Homo sapiens: one gene and its partners. The protein of the gene in region 4 interacts with the protein of the main gene of each other region in a pairwise test. Each region holds a gene or a part of one and is shown on either strand. Other genes may lie near its edges.

Evidence for each region.
Region 1: the proteins of GALNT15 (region 4) and MR1 interact in binary tests that used the Homo sapiens proteins (3 or more experiments, as listed by UniProt).
Region 2: the proteins of GALNT15 (region 4) and SYNPR interact in binary tests that used the Homo sapiens proteins (3 or more experiments, as listed by UniProt).
Region 3: the proteins of GALNT15 (region 4) and FCRL6 interact in binary tests that used the Homo sapiens proteins (3 or more experiments, as listed by UniProt).

Annotation. Positions count from the first base shown.
Region 1 is NC_000001.11:181,028,810-181,038,012, reverse strand, and holds the start of MR1 (major histocompatibility complex class I-related protein 1 isoform 1 precursor), read right to left. Parts: upstream 4,031-9,203; 5' UTR 4,006-4,030; coding exon 3,939-4,005; intron 1,017-3,938; exon of another isoform or gene 901-1,016; intron 1-900. UniProt on the Homo sapiens protein: Antigen-presenting molecule specialized in displaying microbial pyrimidine-based metabolites to alpha-beta T cell receptors (TCR) on innate-type mucosal-associated invariant T (MAIT) cells.
Region 2 is NC_000003.12:63,281,308-63,288,307, forward strand, and holds part of SYNPR (synaptoporin), read left to right. Parts: intron 1-7,000. UniProt on the Homo sapiens protein: Intrinsic membrane protein of small synaptic vesicles. Probable vesicular channel protein.
Region 3 is NC_000001.11:159,811,425-159,817,629, forward strand, and holds the end of FCRL6 (Fc receptor-like protein 6 isoform 1 precursor), read left to right. Parts: intron 1-2,064; coding exon 2,065-2,130; intron 2,131-2,796; coding exon 2,797-2,868; intron 2,869-4,003; coding exon 4,004-4,035; intron 4,036-4,111; coding exon 4,112-4,237; 3' UTR 4,238-4,833; downstream 4,834-6,205. UniProt on the Homo sapiens protein: Acts as a MHC class II receptor. When stimulated on its own, does not play a role in cytokine production or the release of cytotoxic granules by NK cells and cytotoxic CD8(+) T cells. Does not act as an Fc receptor.
Region 4 is NC_000003.12:16,204,865-16,213,671, reverse strand, and holds part of GALNT15 (polypeptide N-acetylgalactosaminyltransferase 15), read right to left. Parts: intron 5,170-8,807; coding exon 5,002-5,169; intron 2,549-5,001; coding exon 2,431-2,548; intron 1,104-2,430; coding exon 909-1,103; intron 1-908. UniProt on the Homo sapiens protein: Catalyzes the initial reaction in O-linked oligosaccharide biosynthesis, the transfer of an N-acetyl-D-galactosamine residue to a serine or threonine residue on the protein receptor.

The DNA of each region.
Region 1 (9,203 bases), on a different chromosome or scaffold from region 4:
ATTATGAAGAAAAGTAAAGCAGAGAAAAGAGAGTGTGGAGAGGAGAAGGCCTGATCTTTTAGATAGAGGGACCACAGCAGGTGGCATTTGAGCAGAGATGTGAATGGAGTAAGAAAGTGAGCCCTGTAGGACTATGTGGAGTTTTGGAAAACGAATGAATGAGCTCTGGTGTCTTTTTTCCCTCAGTACTCTCTGTACACAATGATGACTATATGTCTTATGTTTCCCAGAAAATCCCGATTTTATAAATTTTATTTTTCTAAAATGATCCTTTGAAGTTATAACAAAATGTGACTTAATATGTATACTCTTGAAAGATTTTCCCCGATAAATATAAATTCATACATCAGAAAAAACATCCTTTGTCATCTTTCTCAATTTGAGTTCCCTAAAATAAGTGTTCAAAGAGTCATGTGTTTGATCTTTAACTTAGGCTCCTTTCCTCCAGCTCTTAGCAATACTGTGGGGTAAGAGGATTGGGGTCAAGTGAGAATAGACAGATATTTCAACTAGTCAAAAGAAAAATCTACAAATTAGTTGAATTTCTCAAGTTTAGATAGATTCAATGCCAATTAAGAAGAGGGCCTTAGGGGAGTGAAACATTGTCTTGGAGAAATTTCTATGGCATATACCTTGGCAACAGCTCCATGGAAACAGACTGAAGTCTATCTAATAAAGTCTAAAGAAAAAGCCCATATTTTCTCATGTTAACTCTTTGAACTCAAGGTCACTTCTAAGCAGATAATATGCAAGTCTGTTTTTTAACAGTAACCCAGTTGGCAGCTTAGGGAGCTTATCCATCATCAGACCTCGCCTGTGAAGGACTCCACCATTCATGAAGTAGATTGATATAGCAGATTTATACAGCCATAAAATTATGAGTAATATCAAGAGACTGACCTTGGTTATGTCGAGATGAAACATACAAATCACATATGGCAATGCATGAGAAATCTCATGCCAGCCCCCAGTCTGATTACACCCACCCATATCGCCAATTCACAGTTTCACACAGGCTGAAATGAAGAACAAGATGAGTTGTAAAAGCATGAAACACCTTTTTAATACAAATCCTGCAACTACAGTAAGCCACAGTTTTGAATTTGCAGTCGTTATTACTGCCCGAGCTCTCTATGGCTCCCAGTCAAATAACTGTGATTTCTTAGGGACATTACCTCCGAACATAAATTCACTCAGCAAACATTTACTAAGTGCCTGTTGGGCACTAGGTATACCAGAGAAATAAGAAAAAAATGAAGATATCTCTTTCTGTCTTTAAGGAGAGCCTCAAAGAGAAGATTTTTGTAAATGGAAAATTACAGAACTGTGAACAGGAGCCATGGGAGCACAAAGGAAGGAGGAGTCAACTGCAGGCTGTGGAGTTGATGAAAGCAACACACTGAAAGTGATATTGGAGTTATGTTGACATTTCCTGGAGTAATGACCCACAACCCTGCAGTATCTCTTCCCCGTGTTTCCCCATCTATTACTGGTATATAGCTCCCACTCAGGGCTAGCACTAGGCATAAATATCAAGTAGACTGAGTCTTCTTTCATAATCTCATATCCTTTTCCAGCCAATATCCCTCAAAGCCCAGGAATGTTCAGTTAGGGTCCTAGCAGGAAACAGCCTTCAAGCCAGATGGGTCATGTGAGGAGACCTTAATGAAGGGACTCCTTGCAGAGATATGGTCAAGGTTAACGGAACAAACAAGGATGATGGGCATCTGCAGGCTAACAACTATGGGAAGCCATTATCACCCCTAGGGCTTAAGAGATAAGAATAGCAAATACCGTTACTGAAGCCCAATGGGAGCTAGAACCATGAAGAAGGGGTTATTCAGGGAAGACAGCATTACAGAAGAACATAGCTACTGCCAAAGACATCACAGAAAGTGGGGAAGGAGCAAGAAAGATGTATCCCAGCCTCTCTTTCCTCCCTGCTCTCTGACATCTCTCCTTTCAGTGTCTCCCATTGTATGAACCCAAGCAGAAATCAGCTTGCAAGAGAGTCTAGGTGATGCAGTCTAGCAGTCAGCCTCAAGGACACAGAACAGAACAGAGAAGGATGCACTCTAAGGAGTCAGAAGGAGAACAGCCAGCACCAAGTGACCTTCCCTTGCCTTTATAACTTACTTGTTTTATTTCCTGTCCCCCCAATTATCAAAGTGACAAGTCTTCACACCCAAAGGAGCAATGACATTGTGGAACAGCCCTGGACCGAGGGCCAGAAGATCTGCAGTCTCCTTCAGGTTGCTCCTTATGTGAGCGTGGTCACTCTCTAGGCCTAGAGAAAAATCTAGGCCTCATCTTTAAATGGGGATATTTTCTTCACCTACTACAAATAGTCAGTGAGATTGTCATAGGAGATAATATGTTTAAGGAATATTATTCCATATTATTGGAGAGTTCTTTGAGAATCACATGCAGGTAATATATAAGCTTTATTATTTCCAAAAATATCACCCTTTGCCTCTCTCCTCCTTTCCTCTTTCATCTTCTGCCTCTTACCCTCACCCCCAATCTTTCCCATAAATGATGACACTTTCTGGATTAAATTTTCATGGAAGCAGAGACTATGTTTGTCTTGTTCGCTGCCATATCCCCCAAAGTGCCTGGCACATAGTAGGCCATCAATCAATATTTGAACAATTAATATATGGATTTTTTTTTTTTGAGATGGAGTCTCACTCTGTCACCCAGGCTAGAGTGCAGTGGCATGATCTCGGCTCACTGCAACCTCCGCCTCCTGGGTTCAAGTGATTCTCCTGCCTCAGTCTCCCGAGTAGCTGGGATCACAGGTGCGCACTGTGCACAGCTAATTTTTTGTATTTTTAGTAGAGATGGGTGTGCCGAGCTAATTTTTTGTATTTTTAGTGAGATGGGGTTTCACTATGATGGCCAAGCTGGTTTCAAACTCCTGACCTCAAGCGATCCGTCTGCCTCGGCCTCTCAACGTGCTAGGATTACAGGTGTGAGCCACCACTCCCAGCCATATGATTTAAAATTTTTTTATTTGTATAAATTTATGATGTACACATGCAATTTTGTTATAGCATAGATTGTGTAGTGGTCAAGTTGGGGCTTTAAGGTATCCATCACCCAAGTAACACACATTGTACCCATTAAGTAATTTCTAATCATCCACCCCCCTCGCCCTTCCAAATCTCCATGGTCAGTCATTCCACTCTCTATGTGCATGGGTGATTTGAAAGAACTCCTTCCTCTCATGTTCATCAGTCACACCTATGGTGGTGGCCAAGTCTAAGTTCTGGACACTGCCCACCAGTACCAGTCCTCAGCCCAGGGAGCAAGTGATTAGGGCAGAGAAGCCTGGTGGTTCTAGCCCATGGGCCCTTTCCCCTATTTGAGGCAACAGAAGGCATTTGCTTCCCCAGTGACTTGAGCTCCCCGAATAATGAAAAACTCTCCCTTCTACTTGATTAATACTTCTCACAGTCAGTAAACAAACCCAGAGCCATGGTTTTATCTTTCTTGGATCTTTTATTACAGGTAGGGCTTGTGTTGAGGAAAAACATAAATAAACCTGAACAATGGATCTACTCCACTGTTAATGCCCCTGAAACTCTGACTACATCCTCATGAGACTCTGGAAGTTAGAAAAGAGGAGAAACAAAAGTAAAAGAAAAAATATGAGCAGAAAAGAAAGGAGGCCATGCTCAGAGGGAAAGTGAGGAAGTTCCAGAGTCTTTCTAGAACGGCTCCCCCTCCCTCAGAAGGTGGTGACATCAAAATCCTACAAATATGAACTGGGAAACTGTTCAGGCAATCCATTGCTCCTGGAGTCTGAGTGTAATACATACACGTTTCTGCCCCTGGCTTCTATATTTTTCACCACAAGTTTTAGGAAGAAAAGCTGTGCCTTCTAGGCTGCCTCGACTTTGGAGTTAGGAGAGAAGAGGACGTGGGATACTCACGGGAATCGCTGTGCTTCACCATTAACACAATGATGAGAGGTAACAGGAACGCCATCAGTTCCCCCATAGTCCTTCTCTTTCCGGGTTCTTTTAACCAAAAACTGACAGGTCCCTTCTGAGAACCTCTTGGTGACACACAAGGCCTTCTCCCAATAAGAACAGGGGAAGATATGCAGTGTCATCAGTTGCTAGGTTAAAAAAAAAAGATAAAATGAAAGCATGAACACCTTCTTCGGTAACTTTTAAGTCTTTGCTGGTTTCAGACACTGCTTGCTCCTTTTGGTGTATCTATCTTCACCCTATTCCCAATTTTTAAATATTTATGGAGCATAGTCATGTTCAAAGCACAGAGAAACAAAGATTAATCATATCTGGTCAATCAGGGAGCTCAAGCTGCTGCCTCTGCTTCCCTGGAGCTTAGAATTTTGCTTAAGGGTCAGTAAGAAAGAGTCACAGTTCCCACGGCTTGGAACTCCCTGCTCTGGCTCCCTATGATGCTGAAGTCTCTGTCTGAGATAGCAGGTGTCACTTAGATTGTCCCGTAATCTTCAACTTAGGTCTGTCCTCCCTGCTACTCTAGCACCCAGCACAATAAGCTCAAAACACTTACTGAATAAAAGAAGGCAAGAGAAAGGCCTACAGAAGATTCTGAGGGGCAGCCACTCAGCTTGCTCAATCAGCAATCCCCAAGATCAAGCTGTGGCTACACTGTCATAAGGAGCACATGACAAGCTGGAAAACAGCAGCTTAAGCTTGTCCAGGGAGCTAGGGAACAGGCCCAGACAGGAAAGAGGAAGTAGACATGAAGGGGAGAGGTGAATGGAGGCATGGCCATGAGGCAGGCAGGCTTGAGCTGGGTTCAGGGACCTGGGTTTGCCTCCCCACTATTTGACCATGGGCAGAATCCCAAATTGCACCAAGGCCTGATTTCTTCAACTTTAAAAGCAAATCCTGTCATATATTTCACAGAGTTGTTGAAGGATCAGAAGTTCTGTTTATGATGCATTTAGTAGGTAGTAGAACCTTATGTACCGGTTGTATGGTAGGTTGAGAATTGTCGCCCCAAAGATGTCCACAACCTAATTGCCAGAACCTGTGGATATATTACCTTAAATGGCAAAAACAAAATAAAACAAAACAAAACCCTTGGCAGATATGATTAAATTAAGGATCTTGAGACAGAGAGCTATCCTGGATTATCTGGTGGACCCAGTGTAATCAGAGGGGCCTTATTAGAGGGAGGCAAAAGGGTCAGAGTCAAGGAGATGTGACAATGGAAGCAAAGGTCAGAGTGATGATGCCATTGCTGAAAGAAGGACATGAGCCAAGGAACGCAGATGGCCTCTAGAACTAGAAAAGAGAAGGAACAGATTCTCCTTAGAGCCTCCAGAAGGAACACAACACTTTGATTTCAGCTGATAGGACACATTTTTGGACTTCTGTCCTCCAGAACTTTGAAAGAATAAATTTGCATTGTTCGAGGCCACTAAGTTGGTGGTAATTTGTTATAGCAGCAACAGGAAACTAATAGGTCTACCTTTACCCAGAATAAAATAAGAAGCCAAATAATGAAATTAACATTTGGCAATCTCTCAGCGGCCCCTGGCACCTTCTCTTCTCAGATCTTTGTATTTCTCTCTTCCTTTCCTTTCTGTTTCTTTACATTGTTTTTCCTTTTGTTACTCATTTAACAAATACAGTCACCTGGATTTCTCTTTTGGAAAACTCCCCCAATATTCCCAAATGTCTCTCAGCACTGGAATTCCATGGCCATGTATTTTTTCCTTTGAATTTTTGTTAATATCTTGTTCCAAAATGCATTCCATACCATAACCTGCTGTACTGACATTAAAAAGTAGGTATGAGGCCGGGCGCGGTGGCTCACGCCTGTAATCCCAGCACTTTGGGAGGCCGAGGCGGGCAGATCACGAGGTCAGGAGATCGAGACCATCCTGGAACATGGTGAAACCCTGTCTCTACTAAAAATACAAAAAATTAGCCAGGCGTGGTGGTGAGTGCCTGTAGTCCCAGCTACTCGGGAGGCTGAGGCAGGAGAATGGTGTGAACCCAGGAGGTAGAGGTTGCAGTGAGCTGAGATTGTGCCACTGCACTCCAGCCTGGGTGACAGAGCAAGGCTCCATCTCAAAAAAAAAAAAAAATGTAGGTATGTCAACGATGTCTTTCTTTTTTTTGAGACAGAGTCTCACTCTGTCGCCTAGGCTGAAGTGCAGTGGTGCCATCTCGGCTCACTGCAACCTCCGCCTCCCAGGTTCAAGCAATTCTCCTGACTCAGCCTCCTGAGTAGCTGGGATTACACACCCAGCTAATTTTTGTCTTTTTAGTAGAGATGGGGTTTTCCCATGTTGGCCAGGCTGGTCTTGAACTCCTGACCTCAGGATCCACCCACCTTGGCCTCCCAAAGTGCTGGGATTACAGGCGTGAGCCACCACACCTGACCGATGTCTTTCATTTTTTAAGTCATTGTATTCTAATTGCAAATTAGTAAATTTAATCCAGAGTACAGGGCAAATACATATAAAAAACCCAGAGAGTGATAAGATAAAAATCACCCATCAGAAAAAATTGCTGTTGGCCGGGCATGGTGGCTCACACCTGTAATCCCAACTTTGGGAGGCTGACGTGGGCAAATTGCTTGAGCCCAGGAGTTCAAGACCAGCCTGGGCAACATGGTGAAACCCCTATCTGTACTAAAAATACAAAAAATTAGCCAGGTGTGGTGCATGCGCCTGTAGTCTCAGCTACTTAGGTGGCTGAGGTGGGAGGATTGCTTGAGCCAGGGAGGTCAAGGCTGCAGTGAGCTGAGACGCCACTGTACTACAACCATGGCAACAGAAAGAAAGAAGGGAAGGAAGGAAGGAAGGAGAGAGAGAAGGAGGGAGGAAGAAAGGAAAAAATTTGCTGTTAACATATTTTAGTGTATTTCTTTTCAGTGGTTTTGCTGACTACATATGTCTGCATATAAGCATACCTTTATTTGTTCATTTTACCAAAAAAGGGTTTTACGTCCTAATAGTATTTTGTAAATTCTTTTCAAATTTATATTTTCCAATATTAATATGCAGTTTTTAATAGCATAGCTTTAATAGTCCTTAAAATTTTTAATAGATTCAATTATGCCAAGATCTTCAAGGACAGGTAAGACTGCCCCACTAAGCTGGGAGGCACTGAGGTAGGGAGAATCCCTCGCATTCTCTTTGTGGAAAAACAAGCCTCACCTCTGAGCAATAGTCTAAACTTAAATCTCAGGCCGCACTTTTCAGAGTGGGTTGTGCTTATCCTGTTCATTATAAATCCCTTTATGTGTTTGGCTTTTTAATACCTGATTTATTATATGTATTTTAAGGCCCCTCTGAGGAATCTGACTCATTTGCAGTTAGTGCAATTCATCCTTAAAAACCAAATGATGAATTATCAAGTTAGCAAAAGGGTCTTGTTTGTTAAATAATGTTGTTTTCAACATAATATATTTTATTATATTTAATCAGTAGTTTCCCCTTGGCTATTTCTTTTTTAATTCAGTAGAAGTGTGTGTGTGTGTGTGTGTGTGTGTGTGTGTGTCTGTGTCTGTGTCTGTGTCGAGTTTGATTTGAGCCCTTTTCTGTGGGTAGGTAAAATCCATTTGCCAATTTTTGGCCAAGGCTAGTCCTTGTACAAATGGGAGTAGAATACTGTAGCAAAGAACATGGGTTCAGGAGTCAAACTTATTTTCAAATGAGGCTCTGACATTTCCTACCTATGTGACCTTTGACCAAATTATTAACTTCTCTAAGTCTGGGATTTCTCATAGAAAATGGAGGTAATAACCAATTCTGCCTTACAGGATTATTGTGAGGATTCAATGAAATCAGCAGTGGTGGAACCAAGAAGTGACTTGTCACTTGTTGGGGCATTAGAGTACTTTTACTACACACGCATAATGGCCATCAGCTGTCTTAAGTAATCCCAAATAAACCTATAATTTAAGAAAAGAGGCCAGGCGCAGTGGCTCACGCCTGTAATCCCAGCACTTTGGGAGGCCAAGGTGGGCAGATCATGAGGTCAGGAGATCGAGACCAGCCTGGATAACATGGTGAAACCCCGTCTCTACTAAAAATACAAAAAATTAGCCGGGCGTGGTGGTGGTCGCCTGTAGTCCCAGCTACTCGGGAGGCTGAGGCAGGAGAATGGTGTGAACCTGGGAGGCAGAGCTTGCAGTGAGCAGAGATCGCACCACTGCACTCTAGCATGGGCGACAGAGTGAGACTCCATCTCAAAAAAAAAAAAAGAAAAGACAGGGGTCTCCCATGCCACATCAAGTCCCCTAGCCCTGCTGTCCAACCAAATTACATTCTAAAACCTGCCCCATATGGGGATTCTGGAGCTTCTGAAGATAATGCATGTGTGTCACTGTATTTGTTTTCACACTGCTGACAAATACATACCCAAGACTGGGCAATTTACAAAAGAAAGAGGTTTATTGGACTTACAGTTCCACATAGCTGGGGAGGCCTCACAATCATGGCTGAAGGCAAGGAAGAGTAAGCCACATCTTATGTGGATGGCAGCAGGCAGACAGGAGCTTGTGTAGGGAAACTCCACCTTATAATACTGCCAGATTTCATGAGACTTATTCGCTATCATGAGAACAGCACGGGAAAGACCTACCTCCATTATTCAATTACCTCCCACCAGGTCCCTCCCACCACAACACATGAGAATTCAAGATGAGATTTGGTTGGGTACACAGCCCAACCACATCGGTCACTTAGCACAATGCCTGGTACATAGTATGTAAATATTAGCAATCACTAGTACTATTATTGCAATGAGCCAGTTTACCAACACAGATTGATTTTTCTTTCCTTATACACAGTCACATTCATAAAGGATGGTAAAGAACATACCTCCCCTTCCTATAGTGGTTCAAATCCACCGTCTTGTCAAGAAATTCACTGAATTCCAATAACGTATTTCAGCTTTTTAGTACTCACCAATTTCCATTCATTCAGACCCTCCTAACTTGCCTTATTCTAAACAGGATTTAAAACTGTTATTTATTTATTTATTTATTTATTTTTTTGAGACAGGGTCTCACTGTCGCCTAGGCTGGAGTGCAGTGGCGTGAATATGGCTCACTACAACTTCTGCCTCCTGGCTCAAGTGATCCTCCCACCTCACCCTCACGAGTAGCTGGGACCATAGGCATAAGCCACTACACTTGGCTAATTTTTGTATTTTTTTTTTGTAGAGATGGGGTTTTGCCAT
Region 2 (7,000 bases), about 47 Mb from region 4:
AAGCAATGGAGAGCAGCTTTAAACTTGACAGTGTCTTTAAGCTGCAATTTCCCCATGCTGTAGAAATAAACATGCATGTAAAGATATATGTATCTTAGTTTTGGGGGTTGCTATAACAAAACACCATAAACTGGATAGCTTATACACAACAGAAATTTATTTCTCATAGTTCTGAATACTGGAAAGTCTAAGATCAAGGTGCCATCAGATTCGTTGTTTAGTGAGGGCCTACTTTCTGGTTCACAGATGGAGCCTTCTTGCTGTGTCTTCTCATAGCAGAAGGGAAGAACTCTGATCTCGTCTGTCCCTTATAAGAACACTAATCCCATTCACAAGGGCTCCACATTTATGAGCTAATCACCTCCCAAAGGCCCCACCCCCTAAGACCATCACTTTGGGAACTATATTTCAACATGTGAACTTGGGGGGAGGCATAAACATTCAGATAATAGCAATATTCTCAAGAATATTTATTGCAACATCATCTGTAGTGAAAAGAACTGGAAATAACTAGTAAGTCCATTATAAGAAAATAATTAAAGTATGATTCATCATGTTATGAAATATTATATTGCCATCAAAAAGAATGAATTAGCCAGGGATGGTGGCTCATGCCTATAATCTCAGCACTTTGGGAGGCTGAGATGGGAGGATTGCTTGAGCCCAGGAGTTCAAGACCAGCCTAGCCAACATAGGGAAGCTGTGCAATTCTGGAACATATTAATTAAAATATGGCTTAACATATAGTGAATTTCTAATTCTAATATTCAGTGCAGCAGAAGACATGTCTTTTGACAGGAATACCAGCTAAGTCAGTAGATATTTGATTCTTCAGTGTTTGATTTTTTTCATTAGTTGAAGTGAGTTTTAGTTTTGTTAAAATTATAACCAAACTATTTTCACATCATCTTGTAAGTTAAGTGATATCAAACATAAAAGACATGTTCTCATGTTTCTTTTTCTGACTAAATGTCGATGCATATCATTTTTCTATAAGCAATCAGTTGCTTTTAAAATCAGAAGGCTATATTATTCTAATGAACATACTGGATCTAAATGAATATGAAGTTCCATATCAACAAGATATGCTATGTGTTATTTGAGAGAAACTGAAAACAAATTTAGTAAAACTGTTAGTATCAAAAAGAATAGGAATACATTTTTATTGTCCGTACTATGATCAAATAAAAATAATGTGAGATTGTAAAAAAGGAAAAGAAATTTAAAAAATTAGGCATTGTGGTGCATGCCTATAGCCCCAGCTACTTCTGAAACTGAGGTGGGAGGATCGCTTGAGCCCACGAGGTCAAGGCTACAGTGAGCTGTGGTCACTTCACTGCACTTCATCCTGGACGACAAAGTGAGACACTGTCTCAGAAAAAAAAAAAAAAAAAAGAATGAATTCAATTAATATGCATTGACCTGCAGGTAAATATATCATTGTATTTGATAAAATTGTTAAGTGAGAAAACATAAGTTTCATTCTTTGTATTTGATAAAATTGCTAAATGGAAAAACCAGTATTTATCCTTTGAATAAACATGTAGATAATTTATTGAATCATATTTCAAAATAATATACAGAGTCCTGTATTTGCACAAATAAAAAATATAGTTTTGTATGTGAGTGAGTGTGCGTGTGTGCAATTTGTATGAACACAGAGGGAAGTGTAGATATAAAGCACTGAACTGTTAAAATTGATTTTTTCAGAAGGGTGTAATTTGAGATGCAGTAGGTAGAGAACGGGAGAGGTTGATGGTAAACTGTGGTATGCAGGAAGAGTTGTGGGCCTATCACCTGTCTACAGTTGTGCACACACACAAGAAATTCTTTAAAATAGCTCATATTTTACATTATTTTCTATGGATTACCCACATGAACTGGTATTACCTTTAATGTCATCTTCTACTTTTGGATTTTATAGCCTGGGGAAAAAATCCACTTTATTTACGTGTTCTTTCCTTAGGAAGGGTTCACGGATACAGTAGATTTAAAGTCTTAATAACATATAAAAGTCCAGCCTTGAGGGGAAAGCTTTAGCCAATTTCAAGACTTGCAGGCAAAACTCCCACATCCTTAATCTCTACTTAAATGAGGTCAGGGTACTTTTCACTATCTTTTAGGTCAAAACGGAAAAGTCGGGACATAGCACTGACTCTGGTGGTCTTTTACATTTATTCCCTGATGATAAAATAGGTCCAGCAAATCTTTTAAACCATCATTTGGAAATGGCAAAATGTATATATTAAACTTACCCTATTTTCAGACCACTCTGGAAAACTAAGTTGGCATAGTCCTGTCTTCCACAGATAATTCTTTTTTTTTTTTTTTTTTTGAGACGGAGTCTCACTCTGTCACCCACGATGGAGGGCAGTGATAAAATAGGTCCAGCAAATCTCTTAAACTATCATTTGGAAATGGCAAAATGTACATATTAAACTTACCCCATTTTCAGACTACTCTGGAAAACTAAGTTGGTATAGTCCTTCCACAGATAATTACCTTTTTTTTTTTTTTTTTTTTTTTTTGAGACGGAGTCTCGCTAGGCTGCCCAGGCTGGAGCGCAATGGCGCCAACTCAGCTCACTGCAAGCTCTGCCTTCCGGGTTCTCCTGCCTCAGCCTCCCGAGTAGCTGGGACTACAGGCGCCTGCCACCACGCCTGGCTAATTTTTTGTATTTTTAGTAGAGACAGGGTTTCACCGTGTTAGCCAGGATGGTCTCGATCTCCTGACCTCGTGATCTGCCGGCCTCGGCCTCCCAAAGTGCTGGGATTACAGGCGTGAGCTACCATGCCCGACCCACAGGTAATTCTTATTTTGCTACTTTAGTATTTTGCCAGTTGACCTTTGGTCTCTTTTTTTCCCTTTTCTTCTAAAAAATGATGTTAGTAATTCTTTCTTTACTATATGCAATGCACTGAATTTGTACCTGTAGATTTATGTGAAATGAAAAGTGGAGGACTCCACACATCCATGTTGTTCAGAACTACACTGGTGCAGACTTAAGGTCATCAAAAGAACTTAAACTCTCCAAAACAATATTTGTGTGGCTTGCATAGTTCTCCAACACAATGCTGCAGCCCTAGATTCTGTGCCTATGGAATAAACTGCTGACTCAATTTGCCTAATTCTTCTAATCCTTATTTTTGACATTCATCCCTAATTTTGCAATACCTTCTGCTATAACCCTGGGTTTCACATCACCATTTTCCCTTTCCAGCCTACCTCCCTGCCTAACCAAGGCGGCCAGTGAATCCAAAGATGCAGCATGTCGATATGTGAGGTATAGGTCTACTTGATTTAAATGGAGACACTAGCATTTATATAATCTTCATTCCTGAATTTAAATTCTAAGCCACGTTTTTCAAGCAAATATCATACTGCTTTCTTAATATTAATAACATTTATAATTTATGCTATTGATAACAACAAAGTGAAATGTGTCGTCATAACATACAATAAATACAATTTTATAGTAGCCATCATTTTAAACTCCTAATGAGAGAAGTAATAACAGCTACCTTTGTCATGCAGGCATCATATGGGGGACTATATTACTGTGTTTTTCTTACATCATTGTGTTGAATCTGTGTAACTTTAACATTCCCGTTTCTCCAGGAGGCTCAAAGATGTTAACCAACTCATCAGGGACAAAATTGAGGGAAATGCCAAAGCCAAGATTTGAGCAGCCTCACTCCCAACTTCATTCTCTTAAATGCTACACTCCTGCTTTTTCCAATGTGGCAAGCACTTGCCATATCTTATCCCTGATCCTCAAAGAAGCTTTAAAAAGCAGATGTTATCCTATTTTACAGTGTTTATCTCAGTCATCAACTTACATATTTGAGGTCTTTTCTGAAAATGCCAAGGAACATTTGTATTTAGAGATGAATTCAACAGACATCAACTGTCTTTTATATTTGGCTTCTATTTTCTGTTAGTTATTAATTAATCAAGGTAGAGTTGATTCCAATTAAAAACCAGTACTTTTCATTTTAAATATGTAGAAAAAGACTTCGATTACAAAGGCAATAATTTAATCTCATTTTTTATCTTTTCCTCTTTTGTTAAAAAAAGTGTGCATAAGTCAGAGAACTCATTTTCTTCCTGTGTATAAACAAGACGGGGAATTCTTACAGAAAATTTATTTAAATCGTGAGCAGCAATCTACGATTGACAGTTTGATGTAATTTAAAGCTATATTAATGTGGGTTTAATTACAACCTTCTAGCCTCTCAATTGGTGACAACAATCATGTGCAATTGGAGTATGAATCAATAAGTGCACAACAAACAAGCAGCTCCTCAGTGTCCAGATGGATTCATCACTTAATGCTTTCCTGAGTGTATTAAGACAACTGGTATTTGGCCTCACAAGTACAGAAAAAAAGAGAAAAGGGTCAGGAATGCTTCTTATGGATTTGAATTCAGATTTTATTTTTTACTAGCTTTGTTACCTTGGGCAAGTTAAATTCACTAGGCTTCATTTTTCTCATCTATAAGATAGGGCTAATAATAGTTCCTACTTCAAAGTGATGCTATCATGATTTAATGATTTATCCAAGTAAGGTACCTTGCTTAGTACCTACACTGTGATAAGTGCTCAATAAAAGATTATGAAGGTGATGATGATAACGATGCCAGCGGTTATGACGGTGATGAAAAGGGAGAAAGTAGAAATTCATCAAAGGATAATTTAGGAAATTACAGATAACTTTTTGCAAGTTAAAGTCTTGGCAAAACTCTGAGGTAGAAATTTGTATCCAGACTTGCTCATACCTCTTTTTAGCCCCTCTATCTCTATATTCCACTGTGGAGGGCCCTCAAACTGGCAAGTCTATTTTTACCATAGTATGAGTGACTCTTCAGGCGCTTGCTCCTTGGAATATTCACATTTCAAAGAAAATTCCAGCAAGGCCAGTATTGAACCTAAACGAGAACGTCTAATGGAAGAATTGCAAGCACTTGGCCTTCAGGGGTTTGTCGTAGAGGTGTGAAGAGATACTTTTCCTGGTCTTTCTCAAATAACAATCCATAGACAATTTCGTACACTTGAAAGAGACACAGTGGCCCCAACTGAATTCTCCAGGATGTGCTGAGGGTCCTTATAGGGTCAGATACAGGCACTTACTAACCACATTGTAATGCCCAGGTGCTCCAGGCCCTTGGGTGTTCCCCCATAGAAACTGGGGAAAACCCTGGAGTTATGCTGAAGTAGAAACACCATCCTTAGTTCTTTGTTCTGCAGACGACCCACATCTCTCACTGACTGAGGTATGGGGACAGAAGAAAAACAGTCATGTGCTAGTAGAAGAAAAGTAGAAAATCTCTAAGGAGTATGTGCACAGAACCACGGTCTTCCTTTGAGTCTTCATCTTCTGTGGGGATGTATTTGACTTTTGTTGTATTTGTTATTATTCCTGTTCAATGTACTAGCTTAGGCTCCTTTAAAGACCTCAGTTTCCTAACCTGAAAACTGGGGGCAATATCTCCTGCCTATAGTGTTGAAAATTTTAAGTGAGATCAAGCATGAAAAAGTGTTTAGCAAACTGTTAACTATCCTTCTAAAGTAAATGATAATTGTGACCATGATGATGGTGATGATAAAGAAATACCTTTTTCCAACCTAAATGACTCTGGGCAGCGTAATATAGTTACTGGACAGAGCACAGGGTGAGGTGTGAAGTGTAAGAACTTGATCTCTGTTCCCTAAGGAACTAAGTCCTTCCAACCACTTATCACCCTCTGCCTTCCATGCCAGTCTCTTTGGTCTCTTTGAAGCCTACAAGAAAGGATGATGCTGCCAGTCGAATGTAATGAATTATCCAAACTTTACTGGGGAATGTTCCTTAGGAGAGGGGAATGTGGTCCATCCTCACCCTTTTAACTCTCATACCAAGAGACAATTTCTTGCTCTGTACACGTTTCACATTTCTTGATGTTTTAGGGGCCTGGTGACGGTTTCTTGCTGTTCTCATGAACTTTTGTACATGCCACTTCCACTGCCCAGAATGCTCCCTCTCCCTTTTGCTCACCTTTTTTTAGTTGATGAATTCTTCTTCTCCCTTCAGTGTCAATGTAGATACCACTGTCTAGGGAGGTCTTACTAGATAAGGTCAGCCTTCTGACGGCTCCCAGACCACACTTTTTAATGACTTTTCATTCTAGCTACTCAATCAGAGTAAATGCAGTGTGAGAGCAGGGATCTTGTTGGTCCTGCTCATCAGCGCATTTTATGTTTCTAACACAGTGCTTAACACACAGTAAGGCCAACATCAGGGACATCGGCAATCTCCACCAAAACACCCAGGCAGTAGGTGCTTAGAAAGTATTGGTTAAGAAAATGAGAGAAGAAGGAGGGAAGAAAGGGAATAAAGAATATGTAAATGAATTATTGGTAACACATTGGATGAGATGTAAATTCCCCTTAATGGTCTTCATTGTGAAGTGGAATTGTGAAGCTTTCCCTGGAAACAATTGTTTAGCTTGGTTATGGAGGAGAGTAAGTCACATAGGCACCGCTGTCAAGGAAACAGGGCTATTATAGGGATACCCACTGCATGATAATGGTGGAGAACTTTTACAGAAATAAAAGTTCAAGGACTGAAACAGGCTCAGGTCTCATATCTTGGGTTCACGTCAATGAGCAGCAAGAATGCCTTAGCAAGAGTGCCACTATTATTATGTCTTTGTCACTGTCCTGCCTGCCCTCTCTCTGTGTTCCCTTTCTGTTTCCCATTTATTCTTGTCATTATTCTTATCTAATGTCCTAACAGAAAGAATATGATTGGTTCAACTAACAAAAAAATTATTTTAGTTTGGACACAACTATCAACCCCAGGCAATATCATAAGTCAATAGCCAGTCTACAAATTGGTTGCCATAGATCAAATGCCCACTGCTATCCTGTCACTTGTGGCCTGAATAAAAAGGGTCATGATATTCGAAACATTCCCCTTTTGTCTCTTCTTTCAGCTGGAGCAGCGATCATGACGATCCTT
Region 3 (6,205 bases), on a different chromosome or scaffold from region 4:
AGCTCCCTCTGTTGAGAAATTTGGGATGAGTTTTCTAGGAGCTGGACCAGCCTGATAATTAAGGAAGACCACCCAGTCATATGTTCAAAGCATTCCTTCCTGCATCCACCAGGGTACCTGAAAAGGTCTCTTCCCACCCCTAGTCCCAACACTCTGCCTCACCAGGTGCCTAGTTAAGGCTTGGACCAGACTTCAACTTCCTCTCCCCTTTTGAATATGTAGTCTTTGTCCATACAACTTCCCATCCCCACCCTTCTCACTAGTCTTGAGTCTGGATTCAATACAGGCTAGACTTGCTTTAAGGTATTCTTTCATAGTGGGGGAAAAGGAGAGGATGCCCAGAGCTATTGGGGAGGCAGCCGGAGTAGGGAACCACAAACCAAAGATCTGTGAGTTATGCTGTCATTGTGTCTAATAAATCCTCCTCCAAAGGGCCCAGCCTGGCCTCGGTAATACAGGTGTTTCTGTTTCTGTCCACTCACCTCTGAGTCAAAGCATTAAATGCAGAGCAATGGCAGAGTAATGTAGCACAACTGCCTCCCTCCCCAGCCCCAGACGAGATGGTGAAAGAGTGGTCACTAGTGAAAGATCCTCAAGAACAAGATACCTTTCACAGGGAACAAAAGAGCATCCTCTTGATGTAGAGATTATAAACCATCACCACCACACCCACTGCCAACCTTGGAGCAGGTGGGCTTCATTTTACTAAGGAACCTGTCTCTCATGCAAACAGGACTGCTGGTGGTGATCTTAATATCTCAGAATCTCAGGCGCACAAAATATTCTTTAGAATATTGCTCAGAAAGTCACTTTCAGGACCAATTCCTTAGCTACGCAGGAAAAACAGCCAGATCAATAGCCTTGTTCTCCACACCCAGCTCTGGGAGACTCACAACCATTTCCAAATAGCATAGCTGTTCTTCAGCAAACAGAAATATGCCACCGCCAAAGACAGTCTACAGATGTCATGTCCAAAGTCAATTTTTAGAACATTTGACCAATGATGGTGTTACTGGAACAAGGATATGGTCATGCAAGGGGTCCACTTCAAAGTAGCACTCACCTGCATGTACAGGTTCTGCTGTGCTTGTTTAAAAGTGTTCCTTTTACTACCAGTTGTCACACATCCCGTAAAACAAAGTTCTGTCAAACTCATGGAACTCTTCATTGAATGGAGACTTAGAAACTGAGGCTCATTTCTCAGCCCTGACGAATGAGCGTTGGAGAATGCTTAATCACTGGGGATCTGTCTAAGTCTCCATAAATCCCCTCTTGATTTTACAGAAGGAGCCATTTCCACATATCCTACCCAGTGATTCTGATGCTTTCTAGCTCTTAGAGTAATGAGTATTTCTTGGGCACCAGGCATGAACCAAGTGTTCTAAAATCTACATGTGACTCAATTCCTATCCCAAGAGTTACCTTTAAAGTTCTGGAAGCACCTGCTGTTCCAGAGGCAGCATGCTAGTAGAGAAAAGGCATGCAAACCTGGATTAAGATTCTGTCTCCACTACTTACTGTGACCTTATAGAAGTCGCCTCTCCCAGCTCCAGTCACCTCATCTATGAAATGGAGATAAAAGTATCAACCTTTGCAAGATGGTTGTGAAAACCATTAGACGCCAAAGAATTAGGAAGAGAGGTGTTTTTGAAATCCAACTATGTGCTGGTCACTGGTTAGGTGCTTTACTAGGAAGATTATATTTTATTTGGATTGCCTGGCCCAGTGTCTGGCATATAGTGTATGGTCAAAGTTATTAGCTTTTTTCCTTCTGAAAAGCAGCTTGACTGGTAAGCCTAGGCCCTCTTCATGCAAAAATGTGATCCATTCTTGCTGACCTTACTTCCTCCTAGTTTGTGATTCCCATGGAGCCATCTAGGGTATTTTTCAAAGGAAACATCCCATAAAAATCAACCATGTCCAGACCTGTGAACTAGCCCTCCTAACCAAACCAGCCTCAAACCTCCAGCGGCCTCCTTGTCATTCTTGCTCACAGCTTTCCTGTCCCCTGTCCCACCTGCCCTCTAAGGGACACCCAGTGAATCATGCCCTTGTATCTCCTAGGGCCCCTTCCATCCCAGATACCACCCACAGCTCCAGGTGGAGAGCAGTGCCCACTATATGCCAACGGTAAGGACTTCCAGCAGGATGGTGGTGTGCCCATGTGGGCCAAAAAGAGCTTCTTAAGGGAAGTAAGAAGGGAGCTCTCCAGAGCCCTGTATCTCAGGAATTGGAGTGATCTGGGGAAGGAAAACAAACAGCTTCTAGAAAGGGCATGAAGAGGGAGTGCTGTGGAGCTGGTGGTGGGAGAAGGGGGTGGGAAGGGAGCCAGGGCTGCAGGAGACGGGGCAGGGAAGGTTTGGACCAAGGGTTGGCAAACTTGTGGCCCATGGGCCAAACCCAGCACACTGCCTGTTTTTGTAGATAAAGTTTTACTGTAACACACACATGCTCATTGGTTTATTTTGTTTGAGAGCTTTCATATTACAGAGTTAACATTTGTGACAGAGATTATACAGCTCACAAAGCCAAAAATATGTACACCTTTTTTACAGAAAAATTTTGTCAACCTCTGGTTTAAACAGTGTCAGGGCTAGGGAAGCTGCAAAAAAAAAATGTTAAGGGGGCCTGACTCCCCTTGCCATGATGGCTATCCCCACATTAGTGACCAACCCTCATTGCCACTTATCACCATAACAGAGCCCCTGATGGGCTTCTCTCCATGTCTTCAGGACACTTATGACATGAGGTGGGAGAGTCAGGAGGATCCTATTTAAGCCTCATTCCTTCTTCCAGTGCATCACCAGAAAGGGAAAGATGAAGGTGTTGTCTACTCTGTGGTGCATAGAACCTCAAAGAGGAGTGAAGGTGAGTGATCTCAGGCCAAACTTGGTACCTTTGCAAACAGAAGTTTTGGACCTACAATGAGAGTATCACTACCACTGTCATTACCACTTTTATCATTACTGTGACCACCATCACTATCACCAAGACCATCATATTTATCTCCATTATTGTCACCACCATCTCCTCCTTCACTACCACCTTCACCTTCACACCATCATCAATGCTACCATGACCACCACCACCTATCTCCTCCACTACCACGCTCACCACAAACACCACTATGACCACTATATTCACCATTCTCAACATCATCTCCTCCACACTGTTACCATGATAAGTGCAGGGAGTTTTTTGCCCTTTCCTGAACAATGTGAAGGACAAAGAAAAGAGAGAAAAAATGATGTAGTCTTCCTTTGCTCCAGAGTCTAAGTCTAAACAGGACAGTCTCCACTATAAGATGGAGTCAAGAAGACCATGGGCTCCAGCCACAGCTATCAGAGTCAGTTGGCAGAGATGGGGGAAAGGCTGGTCCTTTAACAGAGAAATAGGCCATGTGGCATCATGAGAAGAATGTGGGTTTCTGAGTCTCAGAACTGAGTTTGAAACCTGACTCTATGTACTTATTCACTGTTGACTTGGCAAGTCAAGTGTCCTCTCTGGGCCTAATCTGCAAAGGGGAGACAATGCCTGCTTTGCAGGACTACTGTAAGTTGTTAGGAATAGAACCTAGGTTCTAGAAACAAACCTTAAAAATTGTCTACATGTAATAGATGTTCAAAACAGGGAGTTTTGTTGTTGCTGTCGTTTTAATGTCTTATCTGCCCTGCTAATTCAGTTCCTAATCTGCAAAAATGGGTTTGAATTGGCGTAGGGTTTCTGCTCCTTCCCATAAATGGCAGTAGGGGAAATGAACAGTCAAGGAGTCTCTTAATTGAAGGGCAGTTCCCCCAGGACCTGAGGTCACACAGCTGGTGTGTAGTCCAGCTGGAACTAGAACCCAGGTCTCCCAATTCCAGGTTGAGGAGGAGTGAAAGGAATCTCCCCTGGCTGGCTTCCCTGGCTTTCTAGAGGAAGATAGCCAGCCAGGAGGGGTGGGAAGGAGATGTACTTGCTGTGGAGCACAGAGACCTGACCTGAGCTCATTCTTTCCCCACAGCCAGGTCTGCTGAGTTCACCGTGGGGAGAAAGGTGAGCTGGGATCCCTGCTCCTTTCTCACCCTCTCTCTTACATTTGCTTCCTCATCCTGAGCCAACTCTTCCACAGGACAGTTCTATCATCTGTGCGGAGGTGAGATGCCTGCAGCCCAGTGAGGTTTCATCCACGGAGGTGAATATGAGAAGCAGGACTCTCCAAGAACCCCTTAGCGACTGTGAGGAGGTTCTCTGCTAGTGATGGTGTTCTCCTATCAACACACGCCCACCCCCAGTCTCCAGTGCTCCTCAGGAAGACAGTGGGGTCCTCAACTCTTTCTGTGGGTCCTTCAGTTCCCAAGCCCAGCATCACAGAGCCCCCTGAGCCCTTGTCCTGGTCAGGAGCACCTGAACCCTGGGTTCTTTTCTTAGCAGAAGACCAACCAATGGAATGGGAAGGGAGATGCTCCCACCAACACACACACTTAGGTTCAATCAGTGACACTGGACACATAAGCCACAGATGTCTTCTTTCCATACAAGCATGTTAGTTCGCCCCAATATACATATATATATGAAATAGTCATGTGCCGCATAACAACATTTCAGTCAGTGATAGACTGCATACACAACAGTGGTCCCATAAGACTGTAATGGAGTTTAAAAATTCCTACTGCCTAGTGATATCATAGTTGCCTTAACATCATAACACAACACATTTCTCACGCGTTTGTGGTGATGCTGGTACAAACAAGCTACAGCGCCGCTAGTCATATACAAATATAGCACATACAATTATGTACAGTACACTATACTTGATAATGATAATAAACAACTATGTTACTGGTTTATGTATTTACTATAACTTTTTCTTTTTGAGACGGAGTTTTGCTCTGTCGCCCAGTCTGGAGTGCAATGGCACAATCTCGGCTCACTGTAACCTCTGCCTCCCGAGTTCAAGCGATTCTCTTGCTTCAGTGTCCTGAGTAGCTGGGACTACAGGCATGCACCACCACGCCCGGCTAATTTTTGTATTTGTTAGTAGAGATGGGGTTTCACCATGTTGGCCAGACTGGTCTCGAACTCCTGACCTCAAGTGATCCACCCGCCTCGGTCTCCCAAAGTGCTGGGATTACAGGTGTGAGCCACCGCACCCAGCCCTGTATTTACTGTAACTTTTTATTGTTATTTTGGAATATATTCCTTCTACTTATTTTTTTTAAGTTAACTATAAAACAGCCTCAAGCAGGTCCTTCAGGAAGTATCCAGAAGGAGCCCTTGTTATGATAGGAGATGACAGCTCCATGTGTGTTATTGCCTCTGAAGACTTTCCAGCGGGACAAGATGAGGTGGTGGAAGACAGTGATATTGATGATCCTGACCCTGTGTAGACCTAGGCTAATGTGTGTGTTTATTTATGTCTTAGTTTTTAACAAAAAAGTTTAAAAAGTAAAAAAAAAATAATAATTTTAAAAATAGAAAAAAGCTTATATAAAAATATTTTGTATAGTTATACAATGTGTTTGTTTCAAGCTAAGGTTTATTACAGAAGTCAAAAAGTTTTAAAAACCTAAAAAGTTTATAAAGTAAAAATGTTACACTGAGCTAAGTTTCATTTATCACTGAAGAATTTTTTTTTTTTTTTTTTTTTTTTTGAGACAGAGTCTCACTCTGTCATCCAGGCTGGAGTGCAATGGTACAATCTCAGGTCACTGCAATCTTTGCCTCCTGGGTTCAAGCGATTCTCCTGCCTCAGCCTCCCGAGTAGCTGGGATTACAGGCATGCACCACCACACCTGACTAATTTTTGTATATTTAGTAGAGATGGGGTTTCGCCATGTTGGCCAGGCTGGTCTCGAACCCCAGACCTCAACTGATCCGCCCTCCTCAGCCTCCCAAAAGTACTAGGATTACAGCCATGAGCCACTGTGCCTGACCTGAAGAAAATACTTTCATGAATTTAGTGTAGTCTAAGCAGTGTTGATAAAGCCTGCAGTAGTGTACAATAATGTCCTAGGCCTTCACATTCACTCACCACTCACTCACTGACTCACCCAGAGCAACCCCAGCCCTGCAAGCTCCATTCATAGTAAATGTCCTATACAGGTATATTTTTTTCATCTTTATATTGTTTTTTACTGCATTTTACCTTTTCTGCGTTTAGATATGTTAACTACAAAAATACCATTGTGTCATAGCTGCCTACTATATTAAGGTTTGTAGCCTA
Region 4 (8,807 bases):
GGTCCTGGGAATCTTGTCTTTGGAGCCCCCACTTTCAGCACAGCAAGCATTAATGTGAACCCATTTCCCACATTAAACAGCATTTATGGGTCAATCTGGAAGGACTGGGCTGAGCAGCCACTGACCAATTGATAATGTGCTGTTTGTGGACATTTAAATGTTTAAAATTTTTATTTTTCTGTGGCTTTTTTGGACTCTATTTTTTTTTTTTTTTTTTTTGAGATGGAGTTGCTCTGTCACTCAGGCTGGAGTGCAGTGGCGTGATCTCAGCTCACCTCAAACTCCACCTCCCAGCTTCATGCCATTCTCCTGCCTCAGCCTCCCGAGTAGCAGGGACCACAGGCGCCCACCACCACACCTGGCTAATTTTTTGTATTTTTAGTAGAGACGGGGTTTCACCATGTTAGCCAGGATGGTCTCGATCTCCTGACCTCGTGATCCACCCACCTCGGCCTCCCAAAGTGCTGGGATTACAGGCATGAGCCACCGCGCCTGGCCTTTGGACTCTATTTTTATATTTAATATTTGTTTCATGTCTTGGATCATTTCATAGCCCTGAGCCCTTTGCTCAGGATGAAAGGAGACCTGGCCTTGGAGACCCATCTCATCGCTTCTCTGTGCCAACCCCTCCCCTGGCCCCAGGTGAGGGATCCCATCCCATAGATGTCATCCCATAGATGTTAGGGAGCTTCAGGCCAAGGCCAGCTGTGCTGTCCCATGGAGAAGCCAGAGAGACAAAGGACAGCCTCACCAGGTGGAGGAGCCACTTAAAATAGGGCAGCATGAGGGAAGCTCAAGCCAGAATCTTCTGTTTTCCCCTCCAGGCAAGAGAAAGGAGCCCTCCCTGGCCCACCTCCTGCTAGTGGCCCTGTGCTGGACACAGAAGCCCCACTTGGCTCTCTCCTTACCTTGCTCAAGGAGAAGGCCTCTGGGCTATGCTTGTAGAAGGTTTCTTTGAATGACCCCAGCCAGGTCTCAGCAATGCGAACCCTGTTCCTCAGGGTGGCCTCCTGGTCGAGGGGGGAATGGGAATCCTGATTTTGGTAGATGTGTCCTACCCGAGAGCAGGGAAGGATTTCAACAGAGCCACCACAGAGCCAGGCCTGCCACGAAGGGAAAAGATAAACACCTCAGCATTCCACCTTTAAGAACGGCGGGAAATAGGGAGCCCTATCTATGAGGGGCTGGCAAAATGCACAGGAAATCGTGAGCACTCAATGGTGAAGATGATTATGGTCCTCAGGGTGGCGTAGAGTTTCCAGATTTGGAGGTTCTGGGCAGGGGAGTGACAGGGTGGAGAGAATAGAGGTAGTTGTCCCAAAATGGGGACAAGAGGGCCATCCCCAGGCAACTACCTGAATATGCTGCCCTTCAAACACATGCAGGTCCAGCACTTAGAGAGATGTAGCATGTGAATTAGCACCCCTATTCCCCAAAGGACACTTCCTCAGGGAAAAAGATGATCTCAGTGGTCCGGGAATATCTCAAAGCTTGTGAAGTGTGCTACAAAGACACCAGAAGCTGTTTGTGGTAGAGACAGAAGCAAGCTTTCCTGAGACACAGTCTTTACTATTTCAAGAAATTTCCCTCTGCTCTCCCACTCCCAAACGGCTGGAGTTCATTCGGCAGGAAGACTTTCATTCCACATTTGAGGATAAAGGTTAAAGTAGAAGTACTGTCCTAGGATAAGCAGCATATGAATGGAAACACCAAAACTGGAGTTCCCAAATTATGTGCCAAGGTGCCCCAGGGTGCCACAGCAAACTCATAGGGTCTGGGGTTAAATTTTTGAGAGAAACACGGTGACATCTGTTGGACTTCATGCAGAATACAAGCGTCAGGTAATTCACACTTTCAGCATTAGATCTCTGCACTCTTGATGATGAATTTTTTTTGGTGTTGGGTTTTCGGAGGATACTGTGATGAAAAAGCAAGTATCATGCTAGAAAAGCAATGTGGGACAGGAAATGAGGGTGACTCCAAGGTTTGAGAAGTTGTGTGGTGCCCAACAGGTGCTAAGTTTTTATGACAAGTATTACATTGTTTGGACCAAACTACTCAATACACAGAACTTCAGGTATTTGTTTTGGACTATGGGTGCTGTGAAAAAATTACTAAGATGCTAAGAGCGCTGTGAATAGAGAATGTATGAGAGCCTCTGGAATCTCCGCACAGCAGTTAAAATAACTGAGAGTATGCCTATTCCTGGAAGCAGGTTTTGAAGGCACTGAGAGTGAAACCAAGCTACAGCACAGGAGAGATGGGAAACTGTGAGAAATGGGAGGTTTGACACACAACACAGGAATGACTTTATAATTTTCCCACAGCCTCATTCCTTCCCAGTGACATTTCTAATGCCTGCCTCTGAGCTGTGACCATACACACCACTCCAGAGATCCCACCTCTGTCCTCCCTTGGTCCAGGACATACCTTGAAAGACAGTTCGAGGTTTTCACCACCTCGCAGCGACATAAGAGAGTCATACGCTCCAGTGTTTTGGAAGTAATGTCTGTCCATGGCCACCACCTCTCCGGGCACCACAGGGCTCCTGGACACAGAAGACAGGCAGGACACTGCAGTTCAGAACCCAGAGCACAGCAGGCGAGGCTGGGGGCTGGGGCTTCCCAGGTGGGAGCTCCAGTGGCTGAGAGAACAGGCTTTAGGCTCAGGTAAAATGCAATTTTTTAATTGCAAGACTGGAGCAGAGCCACGATGTCAGAAATCCCAGTGTTTGATGGAAAGAGAGCTATTCTTGCCTGGGCCTTCTATACTCTGTCCTCAGATACTGCTCCTAGAGAGGGCCTAGGGACCACACCTGAGACTCCCCTGCCCTCTGGCTTGAGTCCCTCTGGAAAGATGTTTGGGAAGAAGGCCTTGCTTAAAATCAGGTACTCTAAGAGAGGTAGCACCAGGCCTGACACGGCGACATGGTCAGGCTCTTTCCTCCTTTCTTTTTCTCACCCTCTTCTGTTTTCCTAATGACCATCCACCCTCTTCCCAATTCTATGATGAATCCACCAGGGACCCTGGAAGCAGATAAGTCCCCACTGCCCTAGGGGAAAAATACATGATTTATAAACACAAGAAGCTAGAAACCTTTAATAAGGGAATTAAGATCATAATATCCCTCAGAGGGATTTTAAACAGAGAAAGATGTAGTCAGAGGGTTTTTGAAAAAGGGTCCCTTCATCTAGGAGGAACAAATTTGAATGCAGCCAAACTCTGGGAATTTTTCAAAGTGTAAATGACTAAGAGTTCAGATTTTTCTTAATTACCAAAGAAATAGTAATGCATTAACAAAGCTACTGGTCTTTAGGTTATAAAAATTCTACATTATACCAAAATACTAAAAACTGATATTGTAATGATTATTCAGTATAATTTCCAACTCTGCCACTCCCAATTTGTAAGATCTTAGGTGGGCTATGTGTCTTTGAGCTCAGCTTCCTCACCTCTAATTGGGGATAAAATAGTGTTTCATAATTGGGTTTTGCGGGATGACTAAGGTAAGCCATGTAAAATATGTAGCTCTGTGCATGCCACATTTTAAACGCTCACTGGATTTTGATGTTACAAGTTCAGCATTCCTTTTCTGACACCTGTGGGACCAGTGTGCTTTTTAATGCAGAATTTTTTGGACTTTAAAGAGGGACATACATCGTATACCACACATCAGTCCTAGTGGGGTCTGCCCGGCACTCTTTAGTCAAATATACTAATATTTCTTTGATGAAACACACATATTTTCACAGTAAGCAGTAAGTGGGATAAATAAGGCCAATGCAGACACCCCATGTCAGTTCAGGGCAGCTTTTGCTGCCTAATGATTTTGTTTTTGTTTTTTGTTTTTGAGACAGAATCTTGCTCTGTCACCCAGGCTAGAGTGCAGTAGTGTGGTCTCAGCTCATTGCAACCTCTGCCTCCTGGGTTCCAGTGATTCTTGTGCCTCAGCCTCCCAAGTAACTGGGACTACAGGAGTGTGCTACCATGCCCAGCTAATTTTTTTTTGTAATTTTAGTAGAGATGGGGTTTCGCCATGATGGCCAGGTTGGTCTCGAACTCCTGGCCTCGAGTGATCAGCCCGCCTCTGCCTCCCAAAGTGCTAGGATTACAGGCATGAGTCACTGCATCTGGCCTGCTGCCTAATGAATTATTAAACAAATGTTTGGTTTTTAGAGCTTTTTGGATTTTGCAATTGTGAATAATGAACTGTGGCCTTGTATTTAAAATATAGCATAGCAGTGAAGCAGTCGTCTCAAGGGCCTGGCTGTCTGGGTTTAAATTCTGGATTCACCTCTCACTGGCTTTATAGTGTTGGGAAACTTTAAAAATCCTTATGTACCCCAGAAACCATGGGGGCAGACAACCAACCCCACTGTGTCCTTTCAGAATTCATATCCCACAGAATTCATGAGCTTAATAAAATGGCTGTGTTTTACACCAAGTTTGAGGTGATTTGTTATGCATAAGATATCTAGTACTTCTACTTAAATAGAAGAGTCATCCAAAAACCAAACATGTGAGAAGCGACCCATACAATAGGATATATTTGAGACCTATGGTTCTTAGCATTCACCTGGTTGAATTCTTCCTATTTGCTAAGACGAGACCTGAGGAATTCACACTGTACCTGATGAGAGAGCTGGGCCAAGATTCCATCTCAGGTTGCCACACACTGGGGCATTAACTGATGCTATCTGGAAGACCCTGTCGGAACTTTATGAATATGACAATATAATGGTGGTAGCACCTACATCTGGGTGCCTGGCACTCTCTAAGTGCTTTTCACATATTAGTTCATTCAATCTTCACAACAACCCTTATAGGGTAACCCTTATAGGTAAATACTATGATTGCTCTCAATTTACTGAAAAGGAAACTGTGGCATACATTAAGTAATTTACTAGGAAACTGTGGAGGTAGGATTAGACCCCAGGCAGGCAGGCTGCAGAGTCCATCCTGAGGAGGCAATGGCAAAGCAGGTGTGAAATGGGGACTCACCTGATGGGGCTTATGGGGGACTGGAGGGCCTTCCTCACATGCTCTGGCAAAGGTTCCCAGTGGAAATCCAGCTTCCAGTCCAACACCCCACGCTGCAGGTCCTTTGAGGGGTAATACTGGAAAGTCTTCCAGTCAATCACATCTATCACCGGAGATACCACTCGGCTCCTGGAAAGAATTGTGGAATTAAACAAGGGACGTAAAGCATTTACTTGCTGGGGCTGGAAACAGTCTGTACATGGGCTGCCCAGTATGGTGGCTACCAGACACCCGTACCTAAAATGGGTTTATCCAAATCAGGTGTGGAGTAAGTGTAAAATACACCCTGGATTAAGAATACTTAGTATGGAAAAAATGATGCAAAAATCTTAATAATTTTTACATTGATTATATGTTGAAATGGTAATATTTTGGATATATTGGGTTTACTGAACTATATTATTAAAATTAACTTCATCTGTTTATTTTTATTTTGTAATGTGACTATTAGAAGTATTTTAATTACATATGTGGCTTGTGTTATATTTATATTATATAGCACAGTTCTAGAAAATGTTTTTCCATAAGGAATTAGGGTGTATTGCTTTAAAGAGCATGCCAGTACTTTTCTTTCTTCAAAAACCTTTCTTGACAGCACTGAGAGATACAGAGACGGGTCCTAGGCTCAGCTCTGCTACTAATGAACTATGTAATCTTGAGATACCTGTTATACCTCTCTGGGCCTCAGTTTCCTCATTTGTAGAATGGGAGGTTGAACTACTTCCCACAAAGGCCTTTCTCAGCTGCAATGCTCTAGGACTGTGGCTCTTAACTTCTTTTGGGGTGCTTGATCCCTTTGAGATTCAGGGGAAAACTATGGGCCACTCCTGAATGAAATCTTCCATGTCCATATAAAAAATATTGTGCACGATGTCAGAGAGTTTATGGACCCCTGCTCTCAGGTCTAGTTCTTCTTCCTCCTTGTAGTGTAAAACTGGATTGGCTTGAGAAATCAGGATTTCCAAGCCCTAGAAGTAACCCTACTGTCAATGCATGCATATATGAACATCTGGTATCTATAATCAAAGTCCTGACTATTTTGGGTTATTTGCTCATTTCCCGGTAATGGTGGGGAATTTTAGGCCCAATTTTTTTTTTTTTTTTTTTTTTTTTTTTTTTTTTTTTTTTTTACAGCCTGGAGATATGACTGCAGAGTGATGTGAGAAATTGACATGGGTCATATACTTTTTAACTAAGTAGGTAATCACTCAGGTGTCCCAGGAGCTGCTATCCACCTAGCCAATATCTCAATCACATTTTCTCCCCCTGGCCTGTCATGGTAATTATGTCTTCAATCTGTGCCATGGAATGAATCAGGCCTGAACTTCAGGGTGGCTAGAAGATATCACTCTAAGAGAAGTGAGATTCCTGGGAGGGGAGATACTAGCCACATTGTGTTTACACTACCATCAAATTCCATCTCTGTTCCATTGTCTTGGATAGAGCCAGGGTGGCCCCATGATTTCATTATCTGCTTTAATCTATGGCTTTAGGTAACTGACATAAGTGTAAGGAGTTGTGGGGTCTATATTTAGAGCAAGGATCTTAATATGCTTTTCCTGCCTCTTTCACATTGTTTCTGCTGGAAGGCAAAGGGAACATAATCCCTCTGGGTTTCCCCTATTTTGGGGTACCCTGTATTGACCTAAGAAAACTGAGAACCTAGACCAGGGAGGAAATGAGGGCACCCAGAGCCCCTTCCAGAGCCTCCACTTACTGTGTAATGAATCAGGCAGATGGATAAATTTGGCTATTGGCAAAGCATTTTGTGGAATTTTGGAATCAAGAGCCAGGGAACTGTGTGGCTGAATTAGGAAGAAATGCATGAAATTTGTGCCACCTTCAGCAATCATAAGAGGACAAGAAAGGGACTTGTATTCAAGCATTCCTGCAATCAATTCATCCTAGACCTCTATGCTGTGTATTTCTTTCTTTCTTTTTTTTTTTTTTTTTTTTTTTTAGACAGAGTCTCGCTTTGTTATCCAGGCTGGAGGGCAGTGGCGTGATCTCGGTTCACTGCAAGCTCCGCCTCCCAGGTTCACGCCATTCTCCTGCCTCAGCCTCCCAAGTAGCTGGGACTACAGGTGCCCGCCACAACGCCCGGCTAATTTTTGTATTTTTAGTATACACGGGTTTTCACCGTGTTAGCCAGGATGGTCTCGATCTCCTGACCTAGTGATCCCCCAACCTCAGCCTCCCAAAGTGCTGGGGATTACAGGCGTGAACCATCGCGCCCGGCCTTTTTTTTTTTTTAAATGGTCTCACTCTGTCGCCCAGACTGGAGTGCAGTGGCACAATCTGCGCTCACTGCAACCTCCACTTCCCAGGCCCAAGGATTCTTCAGCCTCAGCTCCCCGAGTAGCTGGGACTACAGGCATGAGCCACCATGCCCGGCTAGTGTGGGGGTGTGTGTGCGTGTAGAAATGGGATTTCGCCATGTTGTTGAGGCTAGTCTCGAACTCCTGAGCTCAAAGTGATCTGCCAGCCTTGGCCTCCCAAAGTGCTGAGATTACAGGTATGAGCCACTGCACCCAGCCTGTGCTGTGTACTTCTTAACAAAGGAGTACGTTGCTTTTTATTAGAAAATGAGAATTCTAAAATTCATTATGTTTCTCTTTTTGTTTTGTCTTTCTGGAAGCTCAGAGTCACATGTAAAACTCACTTCTAATAACTGTATTACCCCTGATTCCCAATACCCTCTTTTCCTTTCTGAAATCTTCTTTTTCCTCTATTTTAACTGTATACAAGAGTGATTAATCATGAGCTTCCCTGAGTACATTTTGGATAGAGATAAAGAATAAAATGTCAGTGAATGAAGTGAGGAGTGTTTTCTATTTTGGTCTTTATTCCCATGGACCACAGTGGCTGCCTAGCAGGACTAAATTACTAACTGTAGTCTACTGACTCAAAAACGGTGATTAATTCAAATAAAAAACCCACAGTCTTCTATTTAGCTTTGTGGTTTTGTACCTACCGATGTGTCTGGTGTTCTTGGAATTCACGTCAAGCAAAATAGCGAGCTGACCTCGTTTGACTTGGAAGGAGCTGGAAGTGTCTGCTTACTTCGTCAGTCCCTCACCTGTGAATTGAGTTTTAACCCTCAGGCAGGTACAAGGTTGATCCTATGTTGAGCCTAAGTTCCAGGAGATCAAGTGCTTATGTTTCAAAAGGCAAACAGAAGGAGTCAAGCTGCCAACAAAGACTGGTTCACTGAAATACGTGAGATCAACGAATACATTACTGTCCAGATATTCAAGAGCTAACTGTAGTTTCAAGCTTCCCATAACCTTTTACCACAATAAAGAATAAGCCCTCGTTTATCTCATTCCTTGTTAATTCTCGTGAGCCTGGATGTTCCTCAAGGTCCATGATACACAAGCCATTTTGAAAGTTCATGCGTATTCTTGGTGTTTGTGGAAAGTCTCTTATACTAGAAGCAGAAGGCTCTGAATTCTCCCTTCCCAGTGCTCTTGCTGCTCAGTTGTGACCGCAGGACTGGCATCGGCTTTTCCAGGGGCAGATACGAGGACGTGTCATGCTGAAGGGTATGAAGTACGATGGTTGCTGGAGAGTTTCCTTGGGGCACCTGAGCCAAAGAAGGCTGCTCCCTCTGGGGGGGCAGGAGGCATCCTGACCTCCTGCTGCTCCTTGACGCGCACATGCGCGCGCACACACACACGCACGCACATGCTCGCTCCCCCCCACACTCAGACTCTCACATGCTTACACACACACACTGACTCACATGCACAAGCACAAGGGGTTCT